Homo sapiens: one gene and its partners. The protein of the gene in region 2 purifies or fractionates together with the protein of the main gene of each other region. This does not show direct contact. Each region holds a gene or a part of one and is shown on either strand. Other genes may lie near its edges.

What was found.
Region 1: the proteins of CDS2 (region 2) and SLMAP purify together in Homo sapiens (affinity purification with mass spectrometry; one large-scale study listed by BioGRID and IntAct). This does not show direct contact.
Region 3: the proteins of CDS2 (region 2) and ALDH3A2 purify together in Homo sapiens (affinity purification with mass spectrometry; one large-scale study listed by BioGRID and IntAct). This does not show direct contact.
Region 4: the proteins of CDS2 (region 2) and SRPRB purify together in Homo sapiens (affinity purification with mass spectrometry; one large-scale study listed by BioGRID and IntAct). This does not show direct contact.

What each region holds. Positions count from the first base shown.
Region 1 is NC_000003.12:57,860,809-57,864,308, forward strand, and holds part of SLMAP (sarcolemmal membrane-associated protein), read left to right. Parts: coding exon 1-31; intron 32-1,140; coding exon 1,141-1,278; intron 1,279-3,500. UniProt on the Homo sapiens protein: Associates with the striatin-interacting phosphatase and kinase (STRIPAK) core complex, forming the extended (SIKE1:SLMAP)STRIPAK complex.
Region 2 is NC_000020.11:5,130,008-5,133,507, forward strand, and holds part of CDS2 (phosphatidate cytidylyltransferase 2), read left to right. Parts: intron 1-3,500. UniProt on the Homo sapiens protein: Catalyzes the conversion of phosphatidic acid (PA) to CDP-diacylglycerol (CDP-DAG), an essential intermediate in the synthesis of phosphatidylglycerol, cardiolipin and phosphatidylinositol.
Region 3 is NC_000017.11:19,665,751-19,669,250, reverse strand, and holds part of ALDH3A2 (aldehyde dehydrogenase family 3 member A2), read right to left. Parts: intron 1-3,500.
Region 4 is NC_000003.12:133,812,315-133,815,814, reverse strand, and holds part of SRPRB (signal recognition particle receptor subunit beta), read right to left. Parts: intron 226-3,500; coding exon 89-225; intron 1-88. UniProt on the Homo sapiens protein: Component of the signal recognition particle (SRP) complex receptor (SR). Ensures, in conjunction with the SRP complex, the correct targeting of the nascent secretory proteins to the endoplasmic reticulum membrane system.

The DNA of each region.
Region 1 (3,500 bases), on a different chromosome or scaffold from region 2:
TGAAGTGGTTAGAAAACTTTCAGAAGTTGAGGTATTTCAATCAAAAAAAAAATACTAAATAGTATTATGAGTGTTCAAAAAAATCTCAAGCATTCCAGGATACTTTAAACTTGGGTATTATTATATAGTTAGGAAATACTTTCTGTCTGTCAGGTGGGAAGGAACAGTTACGCTGCTTTCATTGACAGCAATTCTCCATGTGAGTTTTGGTACTTACTCCCTAGTCAATGGCTGAGGAAATAAAAGCGTAACCAGGGAATCTTATTGTTTGCATTCTGCTTAGGATTCACCCTCCATACAGCAGACCATGATATGTGCTGGGGAATTGATTTCCTGTCACTTGGTTTTGCTTTGCTTCTATTTGAGGGGGGTCAGTGTAAGGCCAAGAGTCTACACTACTTGTTCTTTTTTAATTCACTCTGCAGAGAGGAAAACTAGCTGTGTCATATATTTAGGAAGTTCAAAGGTGAAATCATCTCCAAGGTCCTTTCTAGGTCTTGGAGGAGCAATCAAAATGCAATTTTTATTGCTTTGGGGAAAAAAATTCTAATTCATAATATAGATCTTTTCTTTGAACCACTGCAAAATTACCACATAAATAATGTATTACTAGAATTAGTTAAAATGCTCATCAGAAACTAAATGGTAAACATACCTTTCCTTACTACAGGTATAGTTTGTATTGCTACCTCATCCCATAGTGCCTGATTCACTGTTGTGTGATTAATTTGATATATAAAGAAAGTTACTAAGTGTCTTTTAATTTTTTATTAAATTGATTGCTGGATATTATTAAACTTGCTTTCAAGGATTGATAGGCTTAAAATATTTTCACAGCTAAAAGTCATACCCATTGGCCTTTCAAAAATGTAATTATATAAAGGCAGCATCCTTTTCCTGCCCCTGCTCTCCCTCCACTTTTATTTTTTTGTTGTTTTTGTTAATTCTTAGTTATGTTTTCTGTTTTAGTGTGAATTGAAATTCTTATGTTATTTGACTCAGCTTTATTTAAAGTCCAGGGCAGATGTTGATTTAGAATAGTCCATAGAATTATACTTTTTATAAATTTCATTTAGAAGGAATTCTAAATAACAAATATACACTTATTCTAATTAAATTGCCTGTAAACTTGAATCGCAGCGAAGTCTGAGTAATACTGAAGATGAATGTACCCATCTGAAAGAAATGAATGAAAGGACTCAGGAAGAATTAAGAGAATTAGCCAACAAATATAATGGAGCAGTTAATGAGATTAAAGATTTATCTGATAAATTAAAGGTATGTATTTACTCTGCCTGAAAGTATGTTAAGCTAATAATCCCTAACACACTAGATAGCTTAAGATTTTAGGTATTGCTTTAGCTGGGCGTGGGGTGGCGGGCGCCTGTAATCCCAGCTTCTCAGGAGGCTGAGGTAGGAGAATTGCTTGAACCCAGGAGACGGAGGTTGCAGCGAGCTGAGATCACGTCACTGCACTCCAGCCTGGGCGACAGAGCGATACTCCATCTCAAAGGAAAAACAAACAAACAAACAAACAAAAAACAGTTTGGGCCAGGCGCAGTGGCTCACGCCTGTAATCCCAGCACTTTGGGAGGCCGAGGCGGGCAGATCATGAGGTCAAGAGATTGAGACCATCCTGGCCAACATGGTGAAACCCCGTCTCTACTAAAAATACAAAAATTAGCTGGGCGTGGTGACACATGCCTGTAGTCCCAGCTCCTTGGGAGTCTAAGGCAGAAGAATCACTTGAACCCAGGAGGCAGAGGTTGCAGTGAGCCAAGATTGCACCACTGCACTCCAGCCTGGCGACAGAGCAAGACTTCGTCTCACAAAAAAAAAAAAAAAAAAAAAATTCAGTTTGAAAACCACTGGTATAGATAGATATTTTGAATTGATTTGCATAGTCTCCTTGAATGTGTTAAATTATGCTGAAAGTATGAAAGCAGGATGTAGGTGGTACTACATATTAAATAAGATTTCTATAAAAAAAGATTTTAGGTATTGCTGAATAGTTATTGATGTAAAAATTTGGTAACAGTTGAAATTTATAGTGAAAATAAGGTGTCTGTATTCCATTTAGCCCAACCTCCATTACTATAGATAATTGAAAGCCTGTAAATGCTGACATAGTTCCTCTGGATGAATATGTAGTCAGTGCTTCACAATAGACATTTCTAAAATATATAACAGGAAGTAGATGAGAATCAGCAAAACCCATGATATTCAGATGTTTTAAAACCTAAAACTGCTTATCATTAGGCCATCTAAAAGGCAGGGCCCAGCTATTTAGTGCTGTGCTGGAACAAGCCCAGAGAGAATCTGGGAATGATCTCCCTTTTAGCTTTCAGGGATGCTGTTAACTCTGCTTTAGCTGCCATTCCCTCTATCTATGAGACATCTAGGATAAGGACAGATCAGATCATAGGGTAATGATAGGGTAATGTCTAGTTGGTCCTTTAGAATCTTATAACTGAGGAAAAAAAAAATCTTATAACTGTTTGTGAAGGTCCATCTTGGTTTAATTCAAACTATGGATTGAGTGCCTAGAAGATATGTGTTTGTTAGAGAAGACCAGAGCATACCTCCGTTGGTTAACCTATGATAGTTTTCAAAGTTGGTCTTGTTAAAAGGAGATTGTCATTGTCCATTTTTGTTGCTATAAAGGAATAGCTGAGCCTGGGTAATTTATAAAGATAAGAGGTTTATTTGGCTCACAGTTCTGCAGGCTGAAGCTTCAGGCTGCTTCCACTGATGGCAGAAAGCAAAGTGGAGCTGGTACGTGTTCCATGGTGAGAGAGGGTCTGGGAGAGGTGCCAGGCTCTTTTTAAAAACCAGCTTTCATAGGACTAATAGAGTGAGAATTCACTCATTACCATGAGGACAGCACCAAGCCATTCATGAGGGATCTGCTCCCATAACCCAAACACCTCTCATTAGACCCCATCTCCAACACTGAGGATCAAATTTCAACATTGAGGCTTGGGGGACGAACATCCAAACTATAGGCAGAGAGGTCTTTTTGAATAGTGATTGTACTGTCATCTCGTTACTAAATAATTTTGTTTAAAATTTCAGAATGTTAACATGATAGAACTTCAAAATTGAAATGATAGTAATTTTAGGGAAAAATCTTACTTCCCTCTTTAAAAATACGATTTTTTTTTCCACATTGACCCTTTACCTCTGTGTGTACTGAGCCTACTTGCTTCCTCCAAGTTTCTCTCTCCTGGGTGTTATGGAGGAATAACCCAATGCAGATAATTTTTGACATCAAGCCTTTGTCTTTATCATCTTTACTGGTTTAGAAATGTCAGGTTAGCCGGGCGCAGTGGCTCATGCCTGTAATCCCAGCACTTTGGGAGGCCAAGGTGGGCTGATCATCTGAGGTCAGGCGTTCGAGACCAGCCTGACCAACATGGAGAAACCCCGTCTCTTCTAAAAATACAAAATTAGCTGGGTATGGTGGCGCATGCCTGTAATCCCAGCTACTTGGGAGGCTG
Region 2 (3,500 bases):
TGTTGCCCAGGCTGGAGTGCAATGGCACAATCTCGGCTCACTGCAACCTCCACCTCCCGTGTTCAAGCAATTCTCCTGCCTTAGCTTCCCCAGTACCTGGGATTACAGGTGCCTGCCATCACGACTGGCTAATTTTTTTGTGTTTTTAGTAGAGACGAGGTTTCACCATGTTGGCCAGGTTGGTCTCGAACTCCTGACCTCAGGTGATCTACCCACTTTGGCCTCCCAAAGTGCTGGGATTACAGGTGTGAGCCACCGTGCCCGGCCCATAGTAAACTTTTAAAAAATCCTGATTTATTCTGTTTCATAGTTTGGGAAACACCTACTTCCATGACTTTGGCTTTGCCAATATTCTTGTGTTAGAACCCAAGGAAATTAGAAATAATAAATTTTAAGGAAATGCATTATGAAACAAGAACTTTTTAATTTCATAGTAGAAGAATCCAGTGAACAATTTTCAAGTCAGTGCTTTAAAAGCTCTGGAATAGGCTGGGCGCGGTGGCTCACGCCTGTAATCCCAGCACTTTGGGAGGCTGAGGTGGGCAGATCACCTGAGGTCAGGAGTTCGAGACCAGCCTGACCAACGGGGTTTTAGTAGAAACCCCGTCTCTACTAAAAATACAAAATTAGCCGGGCGTGGTGGTGCATGCCTGTAATCCCAGCTACTCAGGAGGCTGAGGCAGGAGAATCGCTTGAACTTGGGAGGCAGAGGTTCCGGTGAGCCGAGATTGCGCCGTTGCACTCCATCCAGCCTGGGCAACAAGAGCCAAACAACGTCTTAAAAGAAAAGAAAAGCTCTGGAGGCTGGGCGTGGTAGCTCACGCCTGTAATCCCAGCACTTTGGGAGGACGAGGCGGGTGGATCACGAGGTTAGGAGATCGAGACCATCCTGGCTAACATGGTGAAACCCCATCTCTACTAAAAATACAAAAAATTAGCCGGGCGTGGTGGTGGGCGCCTGTAGTCCCAGCTACTCGGAAGGCTGAGAGGCAGGAGAATGGCGTGAACCTGGGAGGCGGAGCTTGCAGTGAGCCGAGATGGCGCCACTGCACGCCAGCCTGGGCGACAGAGCAAGACTCTGTCTTAAAAAAAAAAAAAAAAAAAGCTCTGGAGTAAACTTGAAAGATTCCTCAAAATGTTACAGTTGCTTAACTGCTGTGGCAAAACTGTCTTGTAAATAGAAAATCATTAGTATCAAAATAATCTGGAGCATGTTTATTTATAAAAGTCAGAAGGTATTTTGTTATATTTAGCATCTGAGAATGGAATTTTCAAAGCCAATTGCTAATAAAGGAAATGTTCTCCTCTGGGAACTGTGCTTATAATTTTAAAGTCCCAAAGCACAGTATAGTTGCCAAACTAAGAAACTTGGAGTTTAGGCTTTGGGAATGATCCTCTTCCTACCCAACCATATTTTTCTGATGGAGCTTAGGAAAGCAAAGGATGAGATATGGTCTGAAAGATTGGCATCTTAAAATTTATGATTGAGTTGGCATTTCAGGAGATTTTGTTTCGGAAGTTAGCGTATAGGTTCTGGGGTTTTCTGCTTTACTTAATTGCTGAAGTGCTATTTAAATTAGAGCTTTACTTATTTCAAGGCTTCCTTTCTAGATAGATGAAACCCATATGGAGAGGAAATAGTGACATCATTTAGAAAGGGGAGTTTAAATCTTAACTGAAGATAGCGTGTAAGAGCAGGGGCTTGGGTCAGTTACATCTACCTTGAGCCTGGGCTCCGCCACATAAAGGCTGTGTAACTTTGAGTAGATCATGGAAGTTGTGGCAGCCTCAGTTTGTCCATCATTAAAATGGGGGTCATAAAATTGTATGTGCTTTACAGGATATTCATGTGGATTAAACGTATGTATGGGCTGACAGCAGAGCTTGTCACATAATATGTTAGCTATGTTGCTACTGATTAAAATAGATTTTTATAGAAAAAACTTTAATATTCATCTTACACACTTGAAAGGTGATTAAATCTTCAAGTTATATATATTTGTAGAACCTATTCATATTCATTACCTTTTAAGGAAAGTTTTATAGAAAGGACTTAGCCTTCTATGACCTATCTTCGGTTTATTTTCAATTTTAATTTTTTTTTTTTTGAGATGGAGTCTCGCTGTGCCACCCAGGCTAGAGTGCATTGATGTGTTCTTGGCTCACTGCAGCCTCTGCCTCCTGGGTTCAAGTGATTCTCCCATCTCAGCCTCCCGAGTAGCTGAGATTACAGTCACATACCTCCACGCCCAACTAATATTTTTATTTTTAGTAGAGACAAAGTTTCACCATGTTGGTCAGGCTGGTCTCAAACTCCTGACCTCAGGTGATCCACCCGCCTTGGCCTCCTGAAGTGCTGGGATTACAGGCGTGAGCCACCGCGCCCGGCCTCTTTTTGGTTTATTTTCTTGTGGAATTTTTCAGTACTCCGAATCACAGGCTTTAACTGTAGAAGGACCACTGAACACTGTTGTATGCAATTACCTTCTTTTATAATTAAAAATGGTTTTCAATAGACTTTGAGATTGAACTACTCAAATAAAATATTAAAGAACTATAACTACTTCAGGTATAAGAGAAATGCTTAATTTTTTTCAAGAAAATTTTTTTATGTTGAGAAATAATTTAGGAATTAAAAAAATCAGTAAACCTTAACTATGATTCCCAGGCTTAACAGGGAGAGGAGGTGAAAGATTATTTTCTCATATAACCAATTATTTTATGTTTCTTATTTTTGTTGCTCAAACAGTATGATTTTATTTTAAAAACTCAATTACTGCATGATTTTTGACTATTTAAAATTAGTTTTTCCAAAATCTATTTTTAAAAAATGTTTTGTGTTTGCCCAGGTTAACATGGTATTTCATTAGAAGAATTTTTATCGGCCGGGCGCGGTGGCTCACGCCTGTAATCCCAGCACTTTGGGAGGCTGAGGCGGGCGGATCACGAGGTCAGGACATTGAGACCATCCTGGCTAAGACGGCAAAACCCCTTCTCTACTACAAAAAAAAAAAAAAATTAGCTGGGTGTGGTGGCGCCCGTAGTCCCAGCTACTCAGGAGGCTGAGGAGAATGGCGTGATGGCGTGAACCCGGGAGGCGGAGCTTGCAGTGAGCCGAGATCCCACCACTGCACTCCAGCCAGGAGGACAGAGCGAGACTTCATCTCAAAAAAAAAGAATTTTTATCATCTTTAAAAAATGTTAAATTGCTCTCCTTGGTTGTTAGGACTAGAAGGGACTTTAAAGGTGTTTTTTATTTTTAGGAACAGGGTCTCACCTTGTTGCCCAGGCTGGAGTGTAGTGGCACAGTCATAGCTCACTACAGCTTTAAACTCCTGAGCTCAAGCCATCCTCCTACCTCAGTCTCCTGAGTAGCTCAGGACTACAGGCCTGAGCCATGGCACCCGGCTTGAGGTAGTTATTTTATAGAAGAGGATGCCACAGCTCAGAGAGTTTAAGTTATTAGCTCAAGATGACTTAGTTGGTTAGATACAGAATGG
Region 3 (3,500 bases), on a different chromosome or scaffold from region 2:
GCTCACTGCAGCCTCCGCCTCCCAGGTTCAAGCGATTCTTCTGCCTCAGCCTCCCAAGTAGCTGGGACTACATGTGCATGCCACAATGCCCAGCTAATTTTTTTTTTTGTATTTTTTGTGGAGATGAGTTTTCACCATGTTGGCCAGGCTGGTCTCAAGATTCTGACCTCGGGTGATCTACCTGCCTCGGCCTCCCAAAGTGCTGGGATTATAGGTGTGAGCCACCATGCTTGGCCAACTCCATGGTTAAATGGAAAGAAAAGAAAAGAAAAAAGAAAAGAAAAGAAGAAAAGGAGGGAGGGAGGGAAGGAAACTACAGATAATATTTAATTATTTATTTATTTTATTCTTATTTTTTTGAGACAGAGTCTCGCTCTGTTGCCCAAGCTGGAGGTACAGTGGTGCACTCTCTGCTCACTGCAACCTCCGCCTCCAGGGTTCAAGTGATTCTACTGCCTCAGCCTCCTAAGTAGCTGGGATTACAGGTGGTGCCGCCACACCCAGCTAATTTTTTGTATTTTTAGTAGAGACGGGGTTTCACCATGTTAGCCAGGTGCCTTGGCCTCCCCAAGTGCTGGGATTACAGGTGTGTGCAACCGCACCCAGCCTACAGATGATATTTATATAATAATGAAATAGGGAAAGCTTTTCTAAGCCTACTTTCCAAATCGGAAACCAAAAAACAAAAAGCCACACAGGCTTAGGCCAGATGTGGTGGCTCATGCCTGTAATCCCAGCACTTTGGGAGGCTAAGGCAGGTGGATCACCTGAGATCAGGAGTTGAGGACCAGCCTGGCCAACATGGTGAGACCCCATCTCTACTAAAACTACAAAAATTAGGTAGGAGTGGTGTCGGGTGCCTGTAATCCCAGCTACTTGGGAGGTTGGGGCAGGAGAATTGCTTGAAGCCAGGAGTCAGAGGTTGCAATGAACCGAGGTCGCGCCATTGCACTCCACCCTGGGTGACAGAGTGAGACTCTGTCTCTAAATAAATAAACGCTTCAAATCATAGATAAAATTAAAAGAAAAATTAAAATCTGGAAAGGGATATGTATTACAGATAGGACTGAGGATTTTCTTACTTATAAAAAAGGCTATTTATATACCAATAATAAGGAAGATGTGAACACAGCAAAAATATCAAAGGACATAAATAGAAAATTCATGAGAGTGGTAAAAAAAATTCAAACTCACTAATAATCAAAGGAGTACAAATTGAAATGAGACCCTTTTCTGTCTAGAAATTTAATAATGGAATAATCCAGAATTGGGGATATAAGGAAGTAAACACTCATATACTGATCATGGGAATATAAAGTGGCAGAAATCTGCAAAGACACTTGAAATATCTATCAAAAGTCTTAAAGAGAAGCATTTCTAAAGAAAAACCTAGGCTGGGTGCGATGGCTCACACCTGTAATCCCAGCACTTTGGGAGGCCAAGGCAAGTGGATCTCTTGAGCCCAGGAGTTTGAGACCAGGCTGGCTAACATGGCAAAACCGTGTCTCTACTAAAAATACAAAAATTAGCTGGGCCTGGTGGCACACACCTGTAGTTCCAGCTACTTGGGAGGCTGAGCCAGGAGAATTGCTAGAACCCAGGAGTTGGAGGTTGCAATGAGCTGAGATCACACCACTGCACTCCAGCTTAGGTGACAGGGAGTCTCAGTCTCGATAAAAAGAAAAAAAAAAGAAAAATCTAAACTATATGCCAAAATATTAAAAAGTTTAACTGTTTAGACTTTTTGCCACTGTGTCTATATTACTTTGAGAATTAGAAGAAAAAAGCATTTTTTTCAATTTGGAAAATTGTATAAGCCCTTTTAACAGAGTAATTACACTTGTAGACATTTTTCCTAAAGAAATAATCAGAGATTGCATAAAGATACATTATATAAGAATCGTAATACCAAAAAAATTGAAATCACAAAAATCTAATACTGGGAATTGGTTACATAAATATGCCACATTCATATGATGGAAAAGTATGCAGCTACTAAAATTATGACATGCAAGAATATTGACATGGAAAAGTGTCACACTATTCTGTCACATACAGGGTACAGAACAATATATAGTATGATACCTTTTTGAATAGAATATTCAGATGACCGTGTATATGTGTGTGCATATGTGTGCAAGACATATACCAGTTATCTTTACATAGTGGGGTTATGGGTAATATAAATGTTTATTCTTTGGGCTCTTCTATCTTTTCCAAGTTTTCTTAAAAAGCCTGTATTCTTTTTACATTTGGGGGTCAAGGCTTGTTTTTATTTTTTATTTTTATTTTTTTACAGCATGGCCACTATAATAATGTATTATATGCCTGAAATTTGCTAAGAGAGTAAACCTGTTTTTTTCTTTTGCATCTTCTTTTTGTATTTTTAATTTTTGTGGGTATATAATAGGTTGCTTGTTTTATTTTATTATTTTTATTTATTTATTTATTTATTTATTTATTTATTTATTTTGAGATCGGAGTCTCGCTCTGTTTGCCAGGTTTGAGTGCAGTGGCGCAATCTCAGCTCACTGCAACCTCCACCTCCCTGGTTCAAGCAATTCTCCTGCCTCAGCCTCCCTGGTAGCTGGGACTACAGGCACGCACCACCACACCCAGCTAACATTTGTATTTTTAGTAGAGATGGGGTTTCACCATGTTGGCCAGGCTGGTCTGGAACTCCTGACCTCAAGTGATCCACCCACCTCGGCCTCCCAAAGTGCTGGGATTACAGGCATGAGCCACTGCGCCCAGCCTTGTTTTGTTTTAAATAAGATGGTATAGTCAATGATGCCACAGGCTATCTTGTCAAGTAGGACAGGGACTGAACCCAAGTCACTTAGATTTGCAATTAGAGGGCAGTGGAGACACCATATGGAACAATTACCGAGTTGATTACTGCACTAGCACAGTGGATGCCAGGATCCTATGTGGTGAGCTGAGGAACAGAGACAACAGAGTCCAATCTTTTAAGCATTTGGGCTACAAAACTATTACTTACTCCAGCCAAAATCCCAGGAGTCATCCTCTCTCATTCACCCCCTCCTCCAACATTCACTCCATCAGCCAATCCTGCTGCTTGATCCCAAAAATACCCCCTTCCCTTTCCACTATCTCCCCTGCTACCACCCTCTACAAGCCACCACCATTTCCAATTTGGATCTGGCAATACCTACCAATTGGCCTCTTCCCGCCTGTCCCTCACTCATGTCAGTCACTGTGCTGGGTGCTGGCAATATGTTTACCTCCTAGACAAGGACCTGTGGCTATATAGGTCAAGGCTCCTTGGTCATAGGACAAGGTTTCCTTAACCAGGAACAGATGGTCCTGCCAAACTGGGCCATCGCATCCCATGGAGCAACTGACTTAGGACGGTATTACAAAGGGAGAGGATAGAACAGGGCTTTAAGACAGTGGCTTTTCTGGTTGGGTTTTTGTTATGAGAATGTTTACATATCGGCTATTTTGTAATAGCTCTAGTAGAGAGTAGAAAAGCCCAC
Region 4 (3,500 bases), on a different chromosome or scaffold from region 2:
TAATAACAACTGTAAATAATGGAAATAATTCTTAGTAGCAGCAATCCCCAAAAAACTCAATTATTATTGCAAGAAAACATGATGGCACCTTGCTTATTGCAGGCTATTAAGAATGATGGTGTATTCTTCAGACCCATACTGTCAATGAGGACTTGATACAGAAACTCAGCCACATCTTTCACCTCTCGCTGGAATGCTGCACTATCCACAACAAACACAATAGCCCTGGAGGGAGAAAACAAGAAAAACTGGCATGTGAACGTGTAACAGGACATCATTATCTTGAAAAACTATCCTGAACTTCTTCAAAGTCAATCTTGGTGATTAACACTCAGCAGACACACATGCAGGTCTGTGCATATGTTATCATATAACATAAATCCTCATTTAACAAGGAACTATTGAGTGCTACTGTGTATCAATGACTGAAGCTGAAAAAAGACAGTAAGAAATGATGCCTGTCCTCCAAGACAAATCATCATATAGAGAACCATATGATAAATGCCAAGACAAAACTATGCACATGTGTAACAGGAATAAAGAGAAAGATCATTTAAATGAGACCAGGTCAAAGGCAACTTTAAGGAGAATGTAACAGTTGAGTTGAATCTTAGCTAGACCAAAAATTGGGGCACAGGCTGTCTGGAAAGTACAGGTTGAGTATCCCCAATCCAAAAATCCAAAGTCTAAAATCCAAAACACTTCTGGTTCCAAGCATTTTGGATAAGGGATACTCAGCCTACAGTATGTTCAAGCCACAAATACGTGAAACACATTCCCTGGGGAAGTCAAGGTAAGCTGGTACACAGGGAGATGGGGAAATGAAGGAGAACCAAGTCAGACAGTGAGGCGTGACACAATGACCTGTGGAGTTCATGCTTTTCTGTCTTATGAAGAATATTGGTGCCTAAATGGAAGACAAAGCAATCTTAGAGGGCGCTTGAACTAGAAGCACAGTGACCAGGTAGGGCCTGAACTAAGGCAGCCATAGTGGGACTCCTCATGTGACAGAAACAAAGAGATATCAAAGCTAAAGTGCAGCAGCCCAGGGAAACTGCAGACAACAGGTCTTAGGGGGCCGGGTGCGGTGGCTCACGCCTGTAATCCCAGCACTTTGGGGGGCCGAGACAGGCAGATCACTTGAGGTCAGGAGTTCGAGACAAGTCTGGGCAACATGATGAAACCCAATCTCTACTAAAAATATAACAATTAGCCAGATATGGTGGCGGGAGCCTGTAATCCCAGCTACTTGAGAGTCTGAGGCAGAAGAGTTACTTGAACCCAGAAGGCGAAGGTTGCAGTGAACTGAGATCATGCCACTGCACTCCAGCCTGGGTGACAAAGCGAAACTCCATCTCAAAGAAAACAAAAAAACAAAAAAACCGGCCAGGCGCGGTGGCTCACGCCTGTAATCCCAGCACTTTGGGAAGCCGAGGCGGGCGGATCACGAGGTCAGGAGATCGAGACCATCCTGGCTAACACGGCGAAACCCTGTCTCTCCTAAAAATACAAAAAATTAGCTTGGTGTGATGGCGGGTGCCTGTTGTCCCAGCTACTCAGGGGACTGAGGCAGGAGAATGGCGTAAACCTGGGAGGCAGAGCTTGCAGCGAGCCAAGATCGCGCCACTGCACTCCAGCCTGGGCAACAGAGCGAGACTCCGTCTCAAAAAAAAAAAAAAAAATACAAGCCTTATGGACAAGGGTTTGAATGCCCAGGTGGAGATAAGAGACATGCAATGGCCAACATGCAGCTGGGGAGCTAGAACTGAATGCCCTGCACAAAGCCTACAACTTAAAATAGTCTCAGGGAGGTCGGGGCTTGCAAAAAAAGTTCCCTTAGAAACAGCGGGCCTCCACTGCCTCACACAGATATAGGGTATGAATTTATACTCTCTCCAGGTGTAAGACCCCCAAGGGGAAAGGCTTACATAAAAATTGGGCCAGACTTATTGAAGCCCTATGGCCCCAACAGAAGGAACTATGAACCGCTTATGGAGCAAGGCTTTCATATCCTACGGGATTAAAGAACCACCACAATATCAATGATGTGTCACTCTTGAAGAAAGGTTCTGGAGCAAAAATTACAAGGCACAGAATAAAATAATTATGAGGGAGAATAACTGGTACCCCAAAGAGAATAATCAGCACCCCAAAACTAAGATAATAAAGCTATCTATAAAGTAAATGTTTAAAATTATTTAAGAAAATACTACAAACTACAATAAAAAATAGAATAGTATAAAAAGAAACAGGCTGGTTTGAAAAGGTAAGTATTTTAGACAAATATAGTAAATGATATTAATAAATCAATGGAAAAGTTAAGCAGAGATCATGCTCAGCTGAAAATAATGTAATAAACTAGAAAACAAATCTGAGGGAATCTTACAATATGCGAAGTAGAAAGATCTGGAAGATACGATAGAGAGGAAACAAGAAAGGCAAAAATAATAAGGTTCAATAACATTCATAAGAATTCCAGAGTGTGAGAAATGATCATGGGGAAACAGCACTACCTGGAGAAACGATGGTGAGAATTTTCCAAAACTGAGGAGAATCTTTGGTTTGGAATAGCACAACTGAATTCCAAGAATGATAAAGCTAAATCCATCCTTGAACAGAAGAAAATCTATCCCTGGATAGAAGGTCAAATCAGGCAGACTTACTACAGTGAAATGACAATTAGACTGACTGGCAAAAACATTCTCATCTGCAACAGATGGATGAGGTCAGGAGTGATGCGGCTGCCACCCAGGACTCTGCACTCAGCTAAAAGAGACATTCCAAAATGCTGGCCAAATAGAGTTACAAATGAACAAAGACTGAAAACATTTGACTACTCATCACCCTCTCTGGAAACACTTCTAAAAGATATACTCAGTGAGGGAAAACTGAATCTAAAGGGAAGAAGTAAAATTCAAGAAGCAATGGGGAGCAAAAGACCATAAGCATCCTGGTAATTCTCATCACTGAATGTAAGAGGAAAAAAAAGTATGGATGGGGGTTAAAAAGGAGCATAAATAAAAGGAAGATGTGAGGAAGATGAAAGTTAAAGTGTTTAAGGTTCAGGAAAAGGAAACTGATATTATTGGATTCAGACAATCAAATAGGCAATGTTTAAAAGATGGGGGAGGGGAACCATGATAAGAACAGCAACAGCATATGTTCAAATCAGGAGAGGGAAAATAGCCACTAGGGAAACTTGGCGAAGCCAGAAAGTAGGATTAAAAAAAAGTCACATACCAATATAGTAAATGTCTTTTCAACTTGCATGTTATCATGATTATAATTTATTTGAACTAAGTTTTATCTTCATATTTTGCATGTTTTATTTACCCAAAATACATGAATCACAGAGTAGTTATACTGCAAATCATAAAATATTTAGAACTGGCAATAGAAAAAGAAAAAACATTTAATTGGAAATAAAAACCCAATTATGGCAAAATTTACCAGCTCTAGATTTGTCTCAATTGTCCAAGGAATTTTCTTATCTGTGACAA